Linked DNA regions of Homo sapiens. The protein of the gene in region 4 purifies or fractionates together with the protein of the main gene of each other region. This does not show direct contact. Each region holds a gene or a part of one and is shown on either strand. Other genes may lie near its edges.

Evidence for each region.
Region 1: the proteins of GAPVD1 (region 4) and RASA3 fractionate together in Homo sapiens (co-fractionation; one large-scale study listed by BioGRID). This does not show direct contact.
Region 2: the proteins of GAPVD1 (region 4) and PSMB7 fractionate together in Homo sapiens (co-fractionation; one large-scale study listed by BioGRID). This does not show direct contact.
Region 3: the proteins of GAPVD1 (region 4) and RASAL1 fractionate together in Homo sapiens (co-fractionation; one large-scale study listed by BioGRID). This does not show direct contact.
Region 5: the proteins of GAPVD1 (region 4) and LRRC8B fractionate together in Homo sapiens (co-fractionation; one large-scale study listed by BioGRID). This does not show direct contact.
Region 6: the proteins of GAPVD1 (region 4) and RASA2 fractionate together in Homo sapiens (co-fractionation; one large-scale study listed by BioGRID). This does not show direct contact.

The regions. Positions count from the first base shown.
Region 1 is NC_000013.11:114,010,624-114,014,123, reverse strand, and holds part of RASA3 (ras GTPase-activating protein 3), read left to right. Parts: intron 1-875; coding exon 876-982; intron 983-2,875; coding exon 2,876-2,953; intron 2,954-3,012; coding exon of another isoform or gene 3,013-3,054; exon of another isoform or gene 3,055-3,469; intron 3,470-3,500.
Region 2 is NC_000009.12:124,359,943-124,363,442, reverse strand, and holds part of PSMB7 (proteasome subunit beta type-7 precursor), read left to right. Parts: intron 1-3,500. UniProt on the Homo sapiens protein: Component of the 20S core proteasome complex involved in the proteolytic degradation of most intracellular proteins. This complex plays numerous essential roles within the cell by associating with different regulatory particles.
Region 3 is NC_000012.12:113,132,962-113,137,017, reverse strand, and holds the start of RASAL1 (rasGAP-activating-like protein 1), read left to right. Parts: upstream 1-1,256; 5' UTR 1,257-1,555; coding exon 1,556-1,620; intron 1,621-4,056. UniProt on the Homo sapiens protein: Probable inhibitory regulator of the Ras-cyclic AMP pathway. Plays a role in dendrite formation by melanocytes.
Region 4 is NC_000009.12:125,362,826-125,365,266, forward strand, and holds part of GAPVD1 (GTPase-activating protein and VPS9 domain-containing protein 1), read left to right. Parts: 3' UTR 1-2,441. UniProt on the Homo sapiens protein: Acts both as a GTPase-activating protein (GAP) and a guanine nucleotide exchange factor (GEF), and participates in various processes such as endocytosis, insulin receptor internalization or LC2A4/GLUT4 trafficking.
Region 5 is NC_000001.11:89,580,329-89,583,828, forward strand, and holds part of LRRC8B (volume-regulated anion channel subunit LRRC8B), read left to right. Parts: intron 1-2,296; 5' UTR 2,297-2,322; coding exon 2,323-3,500. UniProt on the Homo sapiens protein: Non-essential component of the volume-regulated anion channel (VRAC, also named VSOAC channel), an anion channel required to maintain a constant cell volume in response to extracellular or intracellular osmotic changes.
Region 6 is NC_000003.12:141,553,027-141,556,526, forward strand, and holds part of RASA2 (ras GTPase-activating protein 2), read left to right. Parts: intron 1-830; coding exon 831-914; intron 915-2,813; coding exon 2,814-2,886; intron 2,887-3,500. UniProt on the Homo sapiens protein: Inhibitory regulator of the Ras-cyclic AMP pathway. Binds inositol tetrakisphosphate (IP4).

The DNA.
Region 1 (3,500 bases), on a different chromosome or scaffold from region 4:
GGAGAGAGAGAGAGAGACAGGGAGAGACGGAGAGAGAGGCAGAGACAGACGGAGAGAGAGGCAGAGACAGACGGAGAGAGAGATAGAGACGGAGAGAGAGAGATGGAGAGAGACAGAGACAGACGGAGAGAGATGGAGAGAGAGATCGAGACGGAGAGAGAGAGAGAGAGACAGAGAGATAGAGACAGGGAGAGAGAGACGGAGAGAGAGAGACAGAGAAAGAGAGAAAAAGAGAGAGACAGAGATAGGGAGAGAGACAGGGAGAGAGACAGAGAGATGGAGAGAGAGACAGACGGAGAGAAAGAGACGGGGAGAGAGAGATGGAGTTAGGGAGAGAGACAGAGAGGGAGAGAGACAGAGAGATGGAGAGAGAGAGAGAGAGCCAGAGACAGACGGACGGAGAGAGAGAGGGGGAGAGAGAGAGAGAGACAGAGATAGGGAGAGAGACAGGGAGAGGGACAAAGAGGGAGAGAGACAAAGAGATGGAGAGAGAGAGAGACAGATGGAGGGGGGGAGAGAGCCAGAGACGGAGAGAGAGAGAGAGAGACAGAGATAGGGAGAGAGACAGAGGGACAAAGAGAGGGAGAGAGACAGAGAGATGAGAGAGAGACAAATAGAGGGAGAGAGAGAGAGACAGAGATACGGAGAGAGACAGGGAGAGAGACAAAGGGGGAGAGACAGAGAGATGGAGAGAGAGAGGGAAACAGAGAGAGGGAGAGAGGGAAACAGAGAGAGGGAGAGAGACAGACACAGGTGGAGATAGAGCCAGGACTGTGGCTGGACTTCCCTGCGGACCCTCAGGGGGCCGGGGCATGGTGTCCCCACGAGGCCATTGTGCCCGAGGAAAACGGTCACCCTGCTTCTCTCTCCCGCAGATGACCCGGACGTCAGGTACACTGCAGTGAGCAGCTTCATCTTCCTGAGGTTCTTTGCGCCCGCCATTCTCTCCCCCAACCTCTTCCAGCTCACGCCGCACCACACGGTGAGTGACCGGCTGAGGGACCGAGGCTTTCTGAGCTGTCCTGCGACGCCGGCCTGGGTTGGGGCATCTGCGTGGCTGTAGGGGGCCGACCGTGTGGAGTGTGGAATGCGTGGGGAGTGTGTGAGGAATCAGGAGTGAGTGGGGAGTGTGTGTGGAATGAGGAGTGAGTGGGGAGTGTGTGTGGAATGGGGAGTGTTTGTGGAATGAGGAGTGTGTGGAGTGCGTGGACTGCGTGGGGAGTGTGGAAGGCATGTGGAATGGGGAGTGTGTGTGGAATGAGGAGTGAGTGGGGAGTGTGTGTGGAATGGGGAGTGTTTGTGGAATGAGGAGTGTGTGGAGTGCGTGGACTGCGTGGGGAGTGTGGAAGGCATGTGGAATGGGGAGTGTGTGTGGAATGAGTGAGTGGGGAGTGTGTGTGGAATGGGGAGTGTGTGTGGAATGAGGAGTGTGTGGAGTGCGTGGACAGTGTGTGGGGAGTGTGGAAGGCGTGTGGAATGGGGAGTGTGTGTGGAATGAGGAGTGAGTGGGGAGTGTGCGTGGAATGAGGAGTGTGTGTGGAATGGGGAGTGTGTGTGGAATGCATGGGGAGTGTGCATGGAATGAGGAGTGTGTGTGGAATGCGTGGGGAGTGTGTGTAATGAGTGAGTGGGGAGTGCGTTTGGAATGGGGAGTGTGTGTGGACGGTGCATGGGGAGTGGGGAGTGTGGAAGACGTGTGGAATGGGGAGTGTGTGTGGAGTGTGTGGACGGTGCACGGGGAGTGTGGAAGGTGTGTGGAATGGGGAGTGCGTGTGGAGTGTGTGTGGAGTGTGTGGACGGTGCGTGGGGAGTGCTGGTGGATGCGCTGGGTCCTGGAACGTCCTCGTTGCAGGTGGTTCACCGACCTATTTAAGCTGTGTACGTTCTGGGGGAGTCGAGACAGTGTCACAAAAGCAGTGGACGGTTTGTCCAGGGTTTTAGCTGCTGGTCACCGCCCTGCTCTCCTCCCCTGCCCATCACATATGGAGTATTGATGATCGGCGTATCATCCGTGTATTGAGTCAACAGATTCCTATTTAGCACTGATTTTCTCCAGGCCCCAATGTGGTTGCTGGGGCCGCAGCTCTCAGGGTACAGGGATCTGGGGTGACCGTGTTGCACGTGCGGGTGGCAGAGCTGGAAGGAGATGGCCAGGGCGAGAGGACGTGAGGGATTGCCCATTCCCCAGCACTTCTTTTTTTTTGAGACAGAGTCTTGCTCTGTCACCAGGCTGGCGTGCAGTGGTACCATCTCAGCTCACTGCAACCTCTGCCTCCTGGGTTCAAGCAATTCTCGTGCGTCAGCCTCCCTAGTAGCTTGGATTACAGACGTGCGCCACCACGCCCAGCTAATTTTGTATTTTTATTAGAGATGGGGTTTTACCATGTTGGCCAGGCTGGTCTCGAACTCCTGACCTCAAGTGATCTACCTGCCTCGGCCTCCCGAAGTGCTGGGATTACAGGCGTGAGCCACCAAGCCCGGCCCCCAGCACTTCTGAGTTGAACCTTCAAACCCTGTGAAGGCTGAGATGAGCCCCAGGCAGGGCCAGGAGACTCAGCACCCCGAGACTCAGCGCCCCAGAGCCATGACCCCACCTGATGCTTTCGACTTTGAGATGCACCCTGCACGCTGGGCCGAGAGAGTGGGTCACCGCGGTGCCGTCGGATGTTGCCTGCGGGATGGTCTCAGCAGCTCCTGAGACTGTGGGACGCCCACCCCCTCCAGTCCCATCTGCGTCGCTACCCCTGTTTCTCCGTAGCTCATGCACAAGCCACAGCAGCTCTGAGGTGACTCCTGCATTTCGTCCCCTCGATCTGGGACAGTCACAGCATTTCTGTGATGCTGACATAGACCTTTCTTGCTCCCGCCTCCCCAGGACCCCCAGACGTCCAGGACGCTGACATTGATCTCCAAGACCGTTCAGACCCTCGGCAGCCTGTCCAAGTCCAAATCTGTGAGTCCCTCTTCTTCATTTTCTCTTTTTAGGGACAACTGATTCTTTTCTCTCTTCAGAAAATACACGTGAAAAACCTCCCACATTTGAGAGAGTCGTAAGATAAAGATCAAGAATCAAAGCCGGCACCACATCCTCTCTTGAAACCCAGGACCTGAGCGTCCCCGTCCCGCTCACCTCTCCCCTCCTAAAGTGAACCCCTTGCCTTTTTCGGGAGCCTGTGGCTCGTCGCCGGCCCCGTGGCAGGAGCAGCATCTGACCTGTCAGGTGTGGGAAGCGGCTGAACAGGCCAGGCAGATGGCCTAACCTGGCGCCTCCTGGGCGTTGCGGTGCTGGAGGCTCCTCGTCACGCAGCCCCCTACTCCCCTCGCGGCCCCCTCCTCCCCACGCGGCCCCCTCCTCCCCACCTCCCCACGCGGCCCCCTCCTCCTCACATGGCCCCCTCCTCCCCATGCTGCACTACCTCCCCATGCAGCCCCCTCCTCCCCACTTCCCTCCCCACGCAGCCGCCTCCTCCCCACGTGGCGCTTCCTCCCCAAGCGGCCGC
Region 2 (3,500 bases), 1.0 Mb from region 4:
TCTGTGACTCAGTGCAGGGAGCATGCTGCTTTCGCGGAGACCGTTTCAAACACTTTTTTGAGCTCTTTCAATTGTATTCAACCATCAACCATTAATGAGTCTTCAGGCCACATCAGTGGCAGAGTCAGAGCCTTAGCCTGTCAGCAGGCCCCCAACAAACACATCGTGTTCAGACCTCCTCCTCTCAAGCGCTTGTCTTTGAATGGTCTCCAGTTGGGACTGGTGCAGTTTGGGAATTGCCCCATTTGGTAGGGGTCTCTCTCATGATTTCAGAGTCTTTGAGTTTGGCAGAGCCATGCATGCATTTGAAGTGAACGTTTCGTTTTTTCATTTGTTGACCTACATGCCAAGCACCAGGCTAGTTCCCTGGGATACAAAGATGGAGAAGGTGTAGGGCGGACCCCTGATGTTCAGAATTTTCATCCTCTCTCTTTAGAGTCCAAATTCTCATCACACCCAGACTTTTATCTGTTCTGCTCTAGATCATCAGAGGAATGGAATTTTTTGCTATTTCAAATCAAAGTGACAAAAGATAATGAAGATTTTCCAAGCTGCATTTGGATTGCCTTCTTTTTAAAAAATTAATTATTTGGCTTGGCAATAAAAACTGTATATACTTACCATATGCAAATGATGTTTTGAAATTTGTGTACATTGTGGAATGGCAAAGTCAAGCTAATATATTAACATGCATTACCTCAAATTTTTTTTTTGTGGTGAGAACACTTAAATCTTAGCTGTTTTTCAAGAATACAATACATTGTTATTAACTATAACCAGTATGTTGTACAATATATCTCTTGAACTTACTCCTTCTAACTGAGATGTTGTATCCTTTGGCCAGCATCTCCCCAACCCTCCCCTGCCTCACTTCTTACGAGTTAAATCCTTAGTGGTTAATGAAGGAGCAAATGGTTGTGAACTAATGGAACTAAATATAGATTCAGAAAGACACAGGGAAATGGATGAAAGTTGTGAGGATTCCGCCGTGATGCCATCCGCATTCTTGCTTCCCCCAGCAAAGGCAGGAGAGCTGCACCCCTTCCTCCTGGCATGGAGGTGGCGCAGAAGGCAAGGGACACTTGGGTGCTGCCTTGAAAACCCTTGGAGCTGGGGGAGCCCTGTTCCTCAGGAAAAAGGCTGAGTATCTCTTTGTTTTCTGCCCCCTAGGCCAGCTCTTCAGCTACATAAACAATATATTTGCCGGCAAATAACCAATTTTATTTCTTTTTAAATTATTTTAAAAATTTTAGTTACAAATCAGTTATGTCAAATGACTTGCCATATACATGAACTTTCACATTCCAAAGCTATGTATAAAATAGTCTGTTAGGTTTTCAGTCAAGTGCATATTTAATATTTTGCCTGCCTCCAGTGTAAGTAAAGCAGTGTTGAGATGCATAGCTGAACAGTCAAATGAAGAGGGTGTATTTAAAGAGTATTAATTTGATGCTGAACTGTCCAGAGTGCCCATTGGCTGGCACAGCTACATTTTTCTCTGGTGACATTCCCAATCTAAAAATCACTTAAGTGAGAAGAGAAATTCGATTGTAGCTGTAGACAAGAATAATGCGGAAAAAGTTTCTTGGCAGTACTATTTTGGACCTGCACTATAGTGGATGCCGAGGTAATCTATCAGTTTGTGAGTGTCTACAAAATGCAACTCTCTAGATAACAGGTTTAAAGTAAAGATTTAATACAGTCTCCATCTCCTATGATGTTGCAGTGACAGTTTAAAACTCATTCTCTAAATCTCAGCAGACTTTATAGCTAGCAGTGGGCCAATATAAAGTTTAATAGCATTACAACACATAAATCATCTTTTAAAGATGCTACTAGTAGCTCCAATATTAAATGCAGACAATCGCCCATGTTATAAATAATTTATCAAACACCATTTCAGATTTGCCTTCCATGCTGAGTTATTTATTTCAGCCTTTTCTGTATGATTCCTAAGGCACTTTTTGAAAGATCCATTACTGGTCAGTTTAATGAACTTGGGGGTCTGTTTTGTCCCCTCAAGCACTCGGGTACAGCTGTGGTGACCATTACGTGGCCGACGTGGACCTCTTTGTGCCTTTTACAAGTGCTGCCCATTTGTCATGTAGCGGTAAATGGAACTGCACATTGGAGTCCAGGGACACATTGTGCGATGCGGTGATGGAGACAAACAGATAGCTCTATAAAGTGCTGCTTGTCACAGCTGACTTGTAGTACAGTACATCACTCTTATTGTAATCTCATTTAAGAAGCAGGGGTGGCCCGGGGGACTGATATTCCCAGTTAGTTTGGTCTTTGTAGCCATAAAGCAAGAAGTGTTCCTTTTATATTTTCTGAACTTTAGGGAGTATGCTTTTTGCTTGGATTAATTATTATAGGAACTTCTCTGTGGCACTGTGTGAAGATTTGTCAGCAGGTTTCTTTGGCCCTCCTTGTCCTGGCCTGGGGTTTGGTATAGGCAGTTGCTGCTTAGAGATAAGTTGTGTTTTTAGGAGCCCTCTGGCTTGCTTTACTAAATAACTTACCATTTATTAAGCAGTAGCTATGTGCCAGAAACTATAGCAGGTGCTTTCTGTACCTTTATTTCTAATTTGTTAGTAATCTTATGAAGTTGGATTTATTATCATTATATTACAGAGCGGGAGAGTAAACTCAGAGAGGTGTAGTGACTTGTCCAGGGTTGCCCAGCAGTAAGTAGTAGACTGGGGATTCAAACCCATTCTGTCTGCCTCCATGTCTCCTTGAACCTGGGTTCCCCAGCTGGTGTTTAATCGTCAGGGTCATGGTGATCTTTTAGCTGAGCGTCTGAAAGCAAAAGGAAGCTGCTGTTGGCCTGGAGGGCCATTTTTTGGTAACGAGGGTAAGGCCTACTCGCCCATCGCCACACTGAGGTTCCCTTGTGACCTGCAACATAAATGCATAGGCAGCTGGCTGGGGGCAGATGCCTCCCTGGCTGTGGGAGAGAGCATCGCACCTGGGCCTGACCACCTGGGGTCATGGGCTCTGCAGAGCCCTTATCAAGGCCCCTCTGTAGCAGCTGTCCCCGGGCAGATGCTGCCCAGGCCCTAGGTCACTCTGCATCTTCCAGAAAAGGGAGGTGCAGTTTCCCTACGAAGAACTAATCCTAAAGGAAGAGACAGTGCTTCTTGCGCTTATTGTGGGCTGGAGACAGATACAAATGTGGTGTTTTCCCCACCTCTTGCCTTTAGTTTGTGGTTTTTCTTGATAGTTTTCTTAAATATTTGGTAGCACATGTTAAAGACAAAAGTTGTTTAATTGTGAAATTCCACTATAAAGAAAACACAGTATGAATATGCCCAGTAGCATATTTGCATACGTGTCTAGAATTCTGTGTATGGAAATACTGTAGTCAGAGACAGTATTCAGCATTGAAGCAGTTCCTGGAACATAGTAGGTCCCTATAGGTGTGTGTTAAAGACATTAACTGTGTAAGTAGTGGGTGGACAGTAGAGCCTTTGGTCATTTCCACGCTGTTTTGA
Region 3 (4,056 bases), on a different chromosome or scaffold from region 4:
GGCCTTTCTAAGAGGTCTTGGGCAGGTCAACAATGAATTCACAGGGAGAAATAAGTGTGCGAACGGATCTGTTCTGGGACAGGCCCTGCCTGTCATATTATCTCATTTAAAATCAGAAAAATGTACAAACCTGGAGCCACTGGAGCAGAGAGAAAGGAAAGAAAATCTCTACCGGAGTGGAAGGGCATCCTGGAAGCCTTCCCAGGAGAGGTGACGCGTGGCCCACGCCTCAAAGGACAACAATCAGAATATCAAACACTTTCTGGACGTGTATTAGGTACTTGTCACTGTCCTGAGACTTTTATCTTCATTAACTCTTTTAATTCTTTCAAAATCCTGTGACTGAAATGCAATGTCATCCTCACTCAACAGATGAGAAAACCAAACCAAAGCACAGAGAGGTTGAATGGCTTACCCAAGTCCAGACAGCTACCAAATGGCAGAGCCAGGATTCGAACCCCTGGAAGGCAAATCAGTTACTGACTGTGAGACCTCTGCCAAGTTATTTAATCCCTCTGAACCTCAGTTTCTTTATCCATAAACTGCGGATAATGGGGTAACAGTGGAGTAGTGTGTAGTGCACATCTGGAGACAAAAATGAGCTAATCCCAGTAAAGCGCTTAGAACAGTGCCTGGCACCCATGAAGTGTTCAAACAACTGTAGATGACTTTTTATCATCGCTGTAGTGGTTATCTTCAAGCCTTCCCCTCCCCCATCTGGCCGCGGCTTCCTCCCCCGCAGTGCCAGCCCGTGACGTTAGAGCAGAGTCTGGGTTCTGTGTTTAACTGGAAACTAGAACGAGATGGAAGGGGATGTTCAAGGCCCCTCCCTTGACTCTGAACGGACCCCCAGGGAACATGCGACCCTCTCTCTGGCGACGCCTCCCACCCACCACTAATACTTGCTCCTGGACCGGGGGGCGCGGAGGTTGGAGAGAGGAGGCAGGTGTCTGCATGGTAGGCAAGGAGGGGTGGGGGCGGAGAGGTGTGAATATGTTGGATGAGGGACAGGCGGGGGCACAGACCATGTCTTTTAAGCCCAATGCCAACTCACCAGGAGCCAGCGGCCACGCCCATCAGGACGGGGGCCCCTCCCCACCTGGCGGTGCACCCTTGTCTCCGCCGCCCGTGCGCTCTGGCGCGCATGACTGGGGTGCCGGTAGAGGGCGCGCGAGGGGGCCCGGGGTCAGGTGGGGGACCCCATTGGAGGCGGGATTGTGGGGAGGTCCCTGGGCCGCCCCTCCCGCCCCCTGCCCGCCCAGCCTGCTTGTCTGGAGCTCCAGACGCCTCGGCAAGAGCCCGCTGCGCCCCCTGCGCGCTCCTCCTGCTCGGAGCACGGCTCCTACCTGTAGAGTCCGGACGGGCGCTCCCTCCCCGGGCACCTACACCTTCTCCTCTTTCGGAAATCTCCCATCCAGCTACCCGGGTCTCGGACAGGCGGCACTGGGACCACGAGGCAGGGAGCCAGGCTTGAAGCAGGTGACATGTAGACGTCCCCTGGTCCAGCCTCGGAACCTGAGCGCCCTTCTGCCTGGAAAGTTTGTGGCTAGGCGCCATGGCCAAGAGCAGCTCCCTGAATGTTCGCGTGGTGGAGGGCCGCGCGCTGCCTGCCAAGGACGTGTGAGTACTCCTCGGGCGCTTCTGGGTGAGGGGCGCGCAAGGCCTGGGGTGGGGCCGACGTCGCCCTTTCCGCGTGCCAGGGCGGGTTGGCAGGAGGGCGAGGGGTTCTTGTCCAAGACTGGTCTTGGGGCAGTTCCGCTTTAAAGGGGCGAGAGGCCGCATGCCCATGGCTGTCCCGGTGGGAGGGGGGCGCCTAGAGTTAGCAGATGCCCCGCCTCACCCCCGGGCAGGGGAGGGGGTGTCTTTGTTCCCGGGATGTACTAAAGGGGGTCGTCCAGAGCTGAAGAGGGGATTAGAGGGCCATATTCTGTCAGATCTGGGAGGGGAGAAAGCGGGGGGTCTCTTCCTTAGTCCAGGCAGATGTTGGAGGTGGCTCCTCCAGGCGTGGGTGGGGGCCTAGCAAGGGAACCCTGGGGAGGACCCTTGGAGAGGGCCTGGGATCAGATGAGCCCTAACATCCTGTGTGGATCTGGTGCTTAGGTTTGCAGAGTGTCACCAGGTGGCCCTCCAGGGTCCTTTTGACCCCAAGCCCTGAGCTCCCCAGTCTTGTGGCTCCCAGCCTCGTGTGGGCCTTCCCCGGGTGCTGAGCTGCTTGAAGAGCCAATTCCTTGCTGCGACCCCCTCCCCAGCCAGGTGCAATGGGACTGGGGGACCCTACGGCTCCCTTCACTACTAGTCCCAAGCTATGCTTCCCCCAGGGCTGAGTCAGCAGCTGCTGAATCAGCAGAATATGGGGGGCGGGTTCCCCCTCCTGCTTGGCATAGTGCCCAGAAGGGGCTCTGAGGGCCTTAGCACCTGCGACAGGTGTGGGATCCTCTGGAGGACATTTGTTGTGTGACCTTGAACCTGCTTCTCTCTGGGCCTTGGTTTCCCATTTGGGCAATGAGAGCTCTGGACCGGAGTCCCCATCTGGTTGCCTGGGGTCTCCCATCCAGCTGGGAGGGTGGAGGACCTGTTAGGAGTTCCCCTGTGGCCCAGGTGAGCAGGAGCATGGATTGGGAGCCTTCACCTGTGTCAAGATTCAGTCTTAGCTCTGTGCTGATTCCCCAAGGTGTGGGCTCCCAGAGAGGACTTTCCTGCCTGATTTTATGACATTCCCAACCCCCAAAACACTGCAGCTGCGTCAAGGGGGCAGCTGTTGAGAGCAATTTTTGCCACCCTTCATCCTCATTGGCTACTCCAAATATACACACCCTGAATGAGAAGCAGAGTGTGTGCTCTGACAGTTCAGTGGCTGGACAAGCCCCCCCACCAGACTCTTTCTAAGATGTCCCCTCAGAGGCCCTGGGAATGAGACGGCCTACACTGTTAGGGCATTGAGGCCAGGCTGGATGCCTGGCAGCTGCTAGGTGGTGAAAGGAGTTCTTTCCAGAAACGGGGTTCTCACTCACTGAGCTCTGGCCCCTCCACCAGCCCTGGGTGAGAGGTCATGAGGGGGCGATGGGTGTCACCCCTGCACCTGGACACTGGCTTACGGTAACCTGCTGCTCTTCTGGAGAAGGGACTTGAGTCATGCCTGGTTCCTGCAGCTCTTGGCCAAACTTCCTGCCCCCAATTCCTGGGCCAGTGAGCTATGAAATAGGTCATGCCCTAGAGCAAGGGTGGGGAGGAGTCACTTAGCCCCAGCTGGCAGGGGGGGTTCTGGCCACCCTGCCTCAGTTTCCCTAGCTGTCAGCACCCTTCTTCAAAGGGGCTCTTCCTGGAGGCTGCTGGGAGCTCCATGCCATGGGAGCCCTTAGGTGGGGTGTGTTCTTTCCCTCTTCTCCTAAGGGAAAGGGCCCAGATTCTGCCTAAAGCATTGCCAGGTTTGAGGGGGGTCCATTCTGGCCCGGGAGGAGGCCTCTTCAGGTAATTTTAGAGTTTTTACTATTAGAAATAGTAGCAGTCAGTCACTGAGGGCTTAGTATGGACAGGCCCTGTGCTTAACACTTCATATAGTTCTATTGGCGTCTCTTATTTTACAAATGGGGAAACTGAGGACCAGAGAGGCAGTCACTTGCCTAAGGTCACCCAGCTGCGATTTGAACTCTGACTACTCCATGCCCAAACCAGACTGGGCAGGCAATGGCTGAGGGGCCTGCTTTCCCAAGACTGAGCTGAGTCAGGGGCCGTGGGAGAGGCCACAAGTCTGGAGAGATCAGGGGTCTGGAAGCAGCCACCCCCTCTTGCCACCGTTGCCCTCCCTGATAGGAGTCTGATAAGGCCCTCATGCGTCAGAGCCCTGCAGCTGACTAGTGCTGAGCTCGGCTCCCAGGAGGGCCTGGAGGTCAGGCTGGGTCTGCAGGAGGGGGTGTGTCTCCCAGCCCTCGGCTAGTGGGATCCCAGCCCATCTGACCCCACATCTGTAGTTGGGGAAACTGAGGGGTGGGAGCCTGCATAAAGGAAGCTTAGGGGTGGAGAACCCAGGGAAGGAAACTGAGACACAGGACATTACCA
Region 4 (2,441 bases):
GGCTGAAGATTGTTTTGTATGATACTGCACAGCATCAGGCATTTTAAAGCAGATCTTTACTAAACAGGTTAATGAGCTAACAAGCAGGTTCTCTCGTCTTTGGGCTCTTTCCTTTCTGAGTTGCATATTCTATTTTCTTGTCCCCAAGTAGAGACTAGTACTACAAAAAGGGACCACATTTTTCAAGTATTTCTAAGTATAAAAAACAAAACAAAAATCTCTTAGGAAATGTCTAGACCTCCATTCTTGGATTCCCTTTCTTTCCTTTTATTTTAAAAAAGAACAGTACCCCTCTTTTAAGATGCTGTCTTACATTAATGAGCATCTAATGGAAAGAAGGTATGAGTTGCACTGAGGATTAGAATAGTGGTGCGTTAGTGGCATTATCTATAAATACACTCACCTAAATTGAAAGCTAAGAAGGAAATGTAAATATAATATATATTTATATTTGATGTAATATGGACATCTGCAGATTCTAATAAACAAGGACTATTGCTGATAGTAGGCTGTGACATACTGTCTTGTGAAATGGTTTCCTTGACAAAATTTAAGCTGAGCTTAAAAGCAAAAAACAAAAAGTACACAGAAATATTTATTAAAATGTAATACAGTTTATTGAACTTTCTAGGTATGGAGTTTGATGGACAGGGCTGCCTTTAATGAGTGTGAAGGTCACTAAGTCACTTAGACATCTCACCGTGGAAGTTTGTGAGCCTGCATTAGGAGATAGACTGATTACCATACATGACATAAAAAGGAACAGTGGATAGCTCATACTTTATGGTGGTTCTTCTCCTCCGAAATAATATACTGCAGAAATCCCAGACAGAGCTCCTTACAAACCTTTAATTGTAATATATTTTTGATGATTATTCACATTGAATGCACAGACCAAGAATTCAGTGAATGTCATTTTTTAAAAAACTAATTTGTATTGTCTGCTCTAGTGATACAAGTTTTACTAGTGATAAACTATTTTAATCAACCATACTATTCTTATGGAAAAAAATATCTATTTTGGCAGGTTTCTGTGCCTTTATTTCCCTCTTCTGAAAAAAAGTCTGTGTTTTCATAGTTTGGTTTGCATTGTATATCAATAATTAATCAGGAATGGGTTTTGGTGCCTGAAAAATTGGCCATGGAGGCACACCAAAGCTTCAAGCACAAGTCTTGTACATGGGCCATCACTGTCTGGTTTCACTTCGTGTGTTTCCTAAACACATTTAGCTGCTTTTTTAACAAACTCAGCCCCATACTTGAGTCCCTTGTTGTTGGGAGCATTTCCAGGCATCTTTTAAGGGAACTGTGACAAACAGCCTCGGGCAGATGAACACGGAGGCTCTCTGTTGTCTGTCTCTGAGATCTTTGTGTCTGGGAATGCCTAAAGATTTTATTTTTTTTTCTTTGTTTTTATTTTATTTTATTTTATTTTTTTGAGACAGAGTCTCACCCTGTTGCCCAGGCTGGAGTGCAATGGTGCGATCTTGGCTCACTGCAACCTCCACCTCCCAGTTCAAGTGATTCCCCTGCCTCAGCCTCGCGAGTAGCTAGGACTACAGGCGCATGTCACCAAGCCCGGCTAATTTTTGTATTTTTAGTAGAAACGGGGTTTCACCATGTTGGCCAGGATGATCCTCAATCTCCTGACCTCGTGATCCACCCGCCTTGGCCTCCCAAAGTGCGGGATTACAAGCGTGAACCACCCTGCCCAGCCAGAAACTAGATTTTCTTTATGCCTCCACCCCTTCTTATTCATTTACTTTACAATACCAAAATAACAAATTGCATAGGAGTGTGGGATGTGGTTTCTGCCTTCTAGAGAGAGATCAGAATTAAACTAGTACTATGAAATGTCCTTTTGAATGTTAGGTCAAGAAATCCATGTACAGAGTCGTGCACTTCATTGGCTGTAACTGTCAAACTTGCCTTGTATTAGAAGTTAAATCCCATCGTAAATACATCACGAGGCCAGCTGTGTGATTTCTGAGACCTAGATGAGAGTCCATTTACTTCAGCCTTTGATTCAGTAAATGTTAAGCAGCAGAAGACTTCGAATGGTTGAAATTCATTGTTACAGGATTTAACTCATAAACCAATGAGAGATTTTTTTTTTCTCTGCAATGGTTGCTAAGTCTATTCCATGTTAACACTGTGGAAATAAATATGAAGATGTGGACATTGCATCGGGGCTCTTTTCTGTGGAAGAGAAGGTGGTGGGATTGGGGTGAAGGGCTACACTGGAGGCAGGAGATAGGGCTGTGCTGTGTTGGAGCCGGGGCTGAGGGTAGACCCCCCAGAGATTTGACATCTGTGACACCTGTGAAATGGGTTCGGGTGCTCATGACTCCATAGCTGGCGGAGGAGCACAGCACAGCTGTTGCAGGGGCAGCTAAGGTTTCCTCTGAAAATCTGTCAGGAGCAAGGACTACTTTGGCATT
Region 5 (3,500 bases), on a different chromosome or scaffold from region 4:
TACAGAAGGACTGCAGCTCCTTTATCTGGGTTTACCTATTAATATGGCCAGATGTTATAATCAGTATTTCAGCGTAACAGCTGTCTCATGACTAGCTGAAAGTATGCATACATGTCAACTAAAATCCTAAACTGTTTTTCACATGTTCTTTCTTTCATCCAGCAGTGTTTTCTACCATCCCTCACACCCCTGGCCACATCATATTTATAGTATTTTGAGGTCTAAGCCCAGGACTTTCTCTTTGCTTCATGTATTCCTCTCATTTTAGTTTCTGTCTTACCTCGACACACAATTATGTAAGGCAGAGAGGTGAGGCAGAATGAGAAGAGTTGAGAGTTAGAAATAGATCCACTAAACTGGAGTGAAGGAGAGAAGCCCTGAAGAGCTATATAATCCACCTGTAGGTCCTAGGAGGAAGGTGAATCCATATAATATTATGTGATACCCAGAGAGGACACAAGCAGAAAGTAGTGCTCCAGTCCAGCAGTTAAGCTCAGAAATTGTAAAATGCCTTAACAGGTACAAGAGCATGAAGCTGTAGGGTTCAGGGTCAGATGGTCAGGAATATGCTGAGGATGAGACTTATTAACAGGGAGCAGGGACTCTGTAATGGGACTCTAAGGTTCAAGGCAGGATACCAGACCCCAGAAAGAGGGCAAATGAGAGTAAAAAAGTCTTCCTGGCCAGGCACAGTGGCTCAGGCCTATAATCTCAGCTCTTTGAGAGGCCAAGGTGGGCAGATCATGAGGTCAGGAGTTCGAGACCAGCCTGGCCAACATGGTGAAACCCCATCTCCTGTCTCTACTAAAAAGACACAAAAATTAGCTGGGCGTGATGCCATGTGCCTGTAGTCCCAGCTGCTCGGGAGGCTGAGGCGGGAGGATTGTTTGGACCCAGGAGGTGGAGGTTTCAGTGAGCTGAGATCACGCCACTAGACTCCGTCTCAAAAAAAAAAAAAAAAAAAAAAAAGGCTTCCTTGGGGATGCTACTAATACTAGAGTGTCTAGAGAGTAACTCTGGCCCAGAATAAATGATAAGACTTCAGACTCAAGAAAATCCAAGAGAAACCCTTGAAAATAGATTAGAGCTGGACTACCAGCAAGGGGGCACCATGCTACCATTATTATTTTTCTTCTTTTTCTTATCAGATATTTTCTAAGACCCACATATTTCCTTTTACTTTACTCTGTGCCATCTTATAGATCATCTGGATTTTACTGATTAGCAATTTTTGAAACAATTGATGTATGTAAGACTCAACATAGAAATTCTCAGGAATGTTGTCTGAATACTTTTCAGTATGAAAATACAAGATAATCTTGTTTTCCTGAAGGCAAAAGTAATTTAATAATGGAATATGCCTCCATCGTTTATCCTTTTAGTACTTTGCCATCACAACATTAAACATGAGAGGGAGTCCCCATGATAGAATATTCTAGCAGAGCTTTTCTTTCTTATTCTTTTTTAAGCCATAACTTTTAAATACTTCCCAACTTTTAAATACTCTAAGTTTTTTCATACTCATGTACTTAAATTACAAAGCGAAAGCTTGTGTGGAAAGGAGATAATGCATTCAGTGACAGGTTGTTCTGGGCATAGAATTGTAGACCCCACTAAGCCTAAGGGGTAATTTCACAAAGCAGAGCTTGCTTAAAAGAGGCTCCTTGTGGTGACTAAAACAACTCTTGGGCTGTAAGTGATGCTTCAGACATGGGACAAGGTGTGGAAAGGAGCTTACTCAGACATTTTGGAAGGTAAAATGTGACCACTGGAAATTAGGTGGCTGGCTGTGGTGACTCATAGCTGTAATTCCAGCACTTTCAGAGGCCAAGCAGGGAGGATCACTTGAGGCCAAGAGTCTGAGGCCTGTGAGACCCTGTCTCAAAAAAAAAAGGAAGAAAAAAAGAAAGAAAGAAAGAAAAAAATATTAGTAGCATAGGAACAAGTTTTTCAAATGTCAGTTGAAGAAAAATTGGCTCCTGGTTTTTAGTAGCCTAGCCTGGAGTTGAGATACAAGAGGTAACGAGATAATTACCTCAAGGGCTACCCCTAAATTTCTTTCTAGTCAGTATCACTAAATGGTCCCCCATCTAAGAGACTATGGTTCAGAGTTGGATGGCCTATAGTTTCAAATGAAACCAGAAGACTTATGTGCCCCTTAATCAGCTCTTCCTTTTAGGTTTTACCCCAGAGCTAAATCCTACTTGGGAAGGAGGGCATGTGTGTATGAATATTAGAGTAAAATGCTTATTTGAGTACTTGCTTCAGTAGTGTTTCTTTTATTTCCCTCTTCCAGTTTCTGTCCTCCTACAAGGGAAAGTCATGATTACACTAACTGAGCTAAAATGCTTAGCAGATGCCCAGTCATCTTATCACATCTTAAAACCATGGTGGGACGTCTTCTGGTATTACATCACACTGATCATGCTGCTGGTGGCCGTGCTGGCCGGAGCTCTCCAGCTGACGCAGAGCAGGGTTCTGTGCTGTCTTCCATGCAAAGTGGAATTTGACAATCACTGTGCCGTGCCTTGGGACATCCTGAAAGCCAGCATGAACACATCCTCTAATCCTGGGACACCGCTTCCGCTCCCCCTCCGAATTCAGAATGACCTCCACCGACAGCAGTACTCCTATATTGATGCCGTCTGTTACGAGAAACAGCTCCATTGGTTTGCAAAGTTTTTCCCCTATCTGGTGCTCTTGCACACGCTCATCTTTGCAGCCTGCAGCAACTTTTGGCTTCACTACCCCAGTACCAGTTCCAGGCTCGAGCATTTTGTGGCCATCCTTCACAAGTGCTTCGATTCTCCATGGACCACCCGCGCCCTTTCAGAAACAGTGGCTGAGCAGTCAGTGAGGCCTCTGAAACTCTCCAAGTCCAAGATTTTGCTTTCGTCCTCAGGGTGTTCAGCTGACATAGATTCCGGCAAACAGTCATTGCCCTACCCACAGCCAGGTTTGGAGTCAGCTGGCATAGAAAGCCCAACTTCCAGTGTCCTGGACAAGAAGGAGGGTGAACAGGCCAAAGCCATCTTTGAAAAAGTGAAAAGATTCCGCATGCATGTGGAGCAGAAGGACATCATTTATAGAGTATATCTGAAACAGATAATAGTCAAAGTCATTTTGTTTGTGCTCATCATAACTTATGTTCCATATTTTTTAACCCACATCACTCTTGAAATCGACTGTTCAGTTGATGTGCAGGCTTTTACAGGATATAAGCGCTACCAGTGTGTCTATTCCTTGGCAGAAATCTTTAAGGTCCTGGCTTCATTTTATGTCATTTTGGTTATACTTTATGGTCTGACCTCTTCCTACAGCCTGTGGTGGATGCTGAGGAGTTCCCTGAAGCAATATTCCTTTGAGGCGTTAAGAGAAAAAAGCAACTACAGTGACATCCCTGATGTCAAGAATGACTTTGCCTTCATCCTTCATCTGGCTGATCAGTATGATCCTCTTTATTCCAAACGCTTCTCCATATTCCTATCAGAGGTCAGTGA
Region 6 (3,500 bases), on a different chromosome or scaffold from region 4:
TGGAGTAGATTAGATGACCTTGGTTTTTATGGTCTAAAACATTTTCTACAGAATGGTGCTTACTGAGGAGCTGTTTACTGAGAATTGGAATAAAAGGCTGCAGAATTGTGTGAAGCTTGCCCTATATTTATGAATCAGATTTTTAAGTGGAAGCTGCAGTTGTTTCCTTGTTTGTCATTCATGCTTTAGCAGAGGATATGATGCCATAGAGCTGGCTTGGTTTGTAGCTTCTCATTTAGGGTTTGCACCACTTTCTTTTCCTTTTTAGAGGCCACAGCAGTTTTGATGTATTATCAAACCGCAAAATGTACCTTGTTGGGTATTTAGCAGAAGGAAATGTGTTGACTGTTACACATCCCTTATCTACAGTGCTTGAGACTGTTTTGAATTTCTTATTCTTATTTTTTTTTTGAGTATTTGCATTATATATACTTGCCCATTAAGCATCCCAAATCCAAAAAGCCCAAATTTGAAATGCTGCAGTGAGCATTTCCTTGGAGCATCATGTCAGTGCTCAGAAAGTTTTGAATTTTGGAGGACTTTGGATTTTTGAATTTGGAATGCTCAGTCTGTGTTTGATAGTTTCATTAGTGATTGTGGCATTCCTGTTTAGTCTCATTTTGAAAATACAGCATAAATTTAAAAATGCATACATACATATGTCCATACATATTACTACCTATTCCATATAGGTAGTATATAGCCATACAACTGCAGACACATGGAAAACAATTCTTAACCTTTTGAATGTATTAGTTTGTGTTTAAAGATAATGTTTTATCTTGTTTAACTGGAATCTAATATGTTAAATCTCTTTTATTCTACCTTAGCATCAAGGCATGCCATGGGTTGCCTCTCATAAATGGCCAAAGCTGTGACCCTTATGCAACAGTTTCTCTAGTGGGCCCTTCTAGGTAATATTTATTGAATTATTATTAGGTTTTAAAGTTTTGATGTTTGATTTAAAAATTTAAAAAGTAAGATTCTACGAGCAAATGATAAATAGCTATTTATAACACACAGTAATAAATGCTTTGAAAGAAAAATCTTTAGTGAGTTCTATTATACACTTGTCAATAACAAAGCCCTCTTTTTACAGACAGAAATTGGTACCCCATTTTAAATCTGCCATGCTCTTAGGCTTTAAGGAACAACTTCAGTTTTATACTAGTACAATGTAGTACTTTAAAACATAAACTTGACTTTTCATGCATCAGCATTCCTACTTTTCAAATATCCTGAATTTTATGCATGTAAAATCCTGTTTTAATGAATGCCAGTTCAGAATAACAAGACAATTTATATATTTTTATCTGGAAGGCAGCTCAGGACTGAAAATTGCCTTTTCTACTCATGAAATCTGTCCTCTACAGAGAGAATTCCAACTGTAGAAAAACTGCTGAAGTACTAGAGCATGGCAAAGTGTACCATATCATTGATTTAAATGATTTATAATAATTTGTGAAAAAACCTATAGCACTTTGTAATACGGTGTGTTATATGACTTCATTATGATTTCTTTAAGGAACTGACACATCTGAAATATGTCTACAACTTGAAGGTTTAGAATCAGGAAGCAAGAAACACAGTATTCCCTCTACACACACATACATGCATACATACACACCCCTTTTCCCCATCCCCAGAATCTCTAGTTATTCTTACTTTGTAGAAAATCACTACTAAGTCACTTTGAAAAATGTATTTATGTATGTATGTAAAGTACCTAGTACCATGCCGGTATTTATTAGGTGCTCAAACAATAGTATGCTATTAGCAGATACTCAGTCGTATGACATTAAATGCTATTAGAGAGATTTATTTTTGTGTGTTAAAAATGTTCAATCTAGTGGAGCTATTTTTGTTTTTTTTAATAATCTCTACCTGACAAATTATTTGGTAACATACAGTTAGAGACAATTTGGCATATGAATTTGTGTTTTAAAAAGTCTGGCCAGGCGCAGGTGGCTCACGCCTGTAATCCCAGCACTTTGGGAGGCCGAGGCGGGTGGATTACCTGAGGTCAGGAGTTCGAGATCAGCCTGACCAACAAGGAGAAACCCCGTCTCTACTAAAAATACAGAATTAGCTGGGTGTGGTGGCTCATGCCTGTAATCCCAGCTACTCGGGAGGCTGAGGCAGGAGAATCGCTTGAACCCTGAGGCGAAGGTTATGGTGAACCGAGATTGTGCCATTGCACTCCATCCAGCCTGGGCAACGAGCAAAACTCCATCTCAAAAAACTAAAAAATAAAAAGTCACTGTTGGTTTTGCTATTGTACTGTAGTTGTGTAAGATGTTAACACTGGGAGAGGCTGGGTAAAAACACAAGATTTCCTTATGCGTTTTTTGTGACCTCCTCTGAATCTATAATTAAATTAAAAGATTTTTTTAAGAAGTCTCTATTATACCTGAAGCCCAAGAAGTAAGCTGAGTTAAGAATGTTTTTCAAGTTCCTTGGGTATTTTTCAACATAGATGAAGGTGCTCTAAATCTTATTGTCTTCCTTCTATTTATTCTGAGTTGCTTATAGAATAGAATGTGTTTTTAAAACCCCTGAAAAAGGTTGGCAATCTAGTGTGTCCGTAGAGAGAATAATACAATCTTGGCACATAGGGGATGCCTAAAGCTTATATATTCTTTGATTTGAGTTTATAAGGACAGTTACTTTTTTCCAAGCAATATTTAAAACTGAATCTTCCCTGAGTCACCTTAACTTTTAAATGGAGGTCAGGCTCCCTGGTTGGAAATAGCATGTTTTATAATTGTGTACTGTTAAGTTCTACAAGGTAAAACTCTACCACATTGGAACAGGAATGACCAAAAGAAGACAAAAGTAAAGAAGAAAACAAGCAATCCGCAGTTTAATGAAATCTTTTATTTTGAGGTAATTTTTTGTTTTACGTAAATGTTAACATTAAATATGTAATATTTAATGCTAGTTGATTTCTTTTTTCAAACCACAGTCATAGTAATCATTTTATCAATTAATGCAGATAAGCATTTCTCTCCTGAAAGCAGTAGAACCATGGTGTGATGCAATGGATGCCCAATATATAAAATGAATAAAGGCAGAGCTCTAATTTGGGAGCAGGAAGGGCCAGGGCCATACCCACTCCCCAGTCATCCTCACTATTCATGCCCTTCCTTTGCACCCTCCCTTACCCTACCCAGCTCCCTACCTAACACATAGTGGCCACAGGATTCTTCTGCAGGGTACCCTTTGACAGTCACTAGTGAAGTAAGTGTAATTATCACTCAAGAAATCTGAGTTCCAGTCAAGTTGACTGAAAGAGTCACTAAATGTGACTCAAGTTTCTTATCCTGTGAAAGAATAATCGGAAGGGAAACTAGCAGCACTACCTGACTCAGAGTTTTTGTAAGACCCAAAGCATGTGAGAATCCTTTGAGACCATAAAATACTTTATGATTACAGCTTTATTATTACTTTTTTTTTTAAGCCTAATTCATTCTGTGGACGCCTGCTTATCTTCATAGACA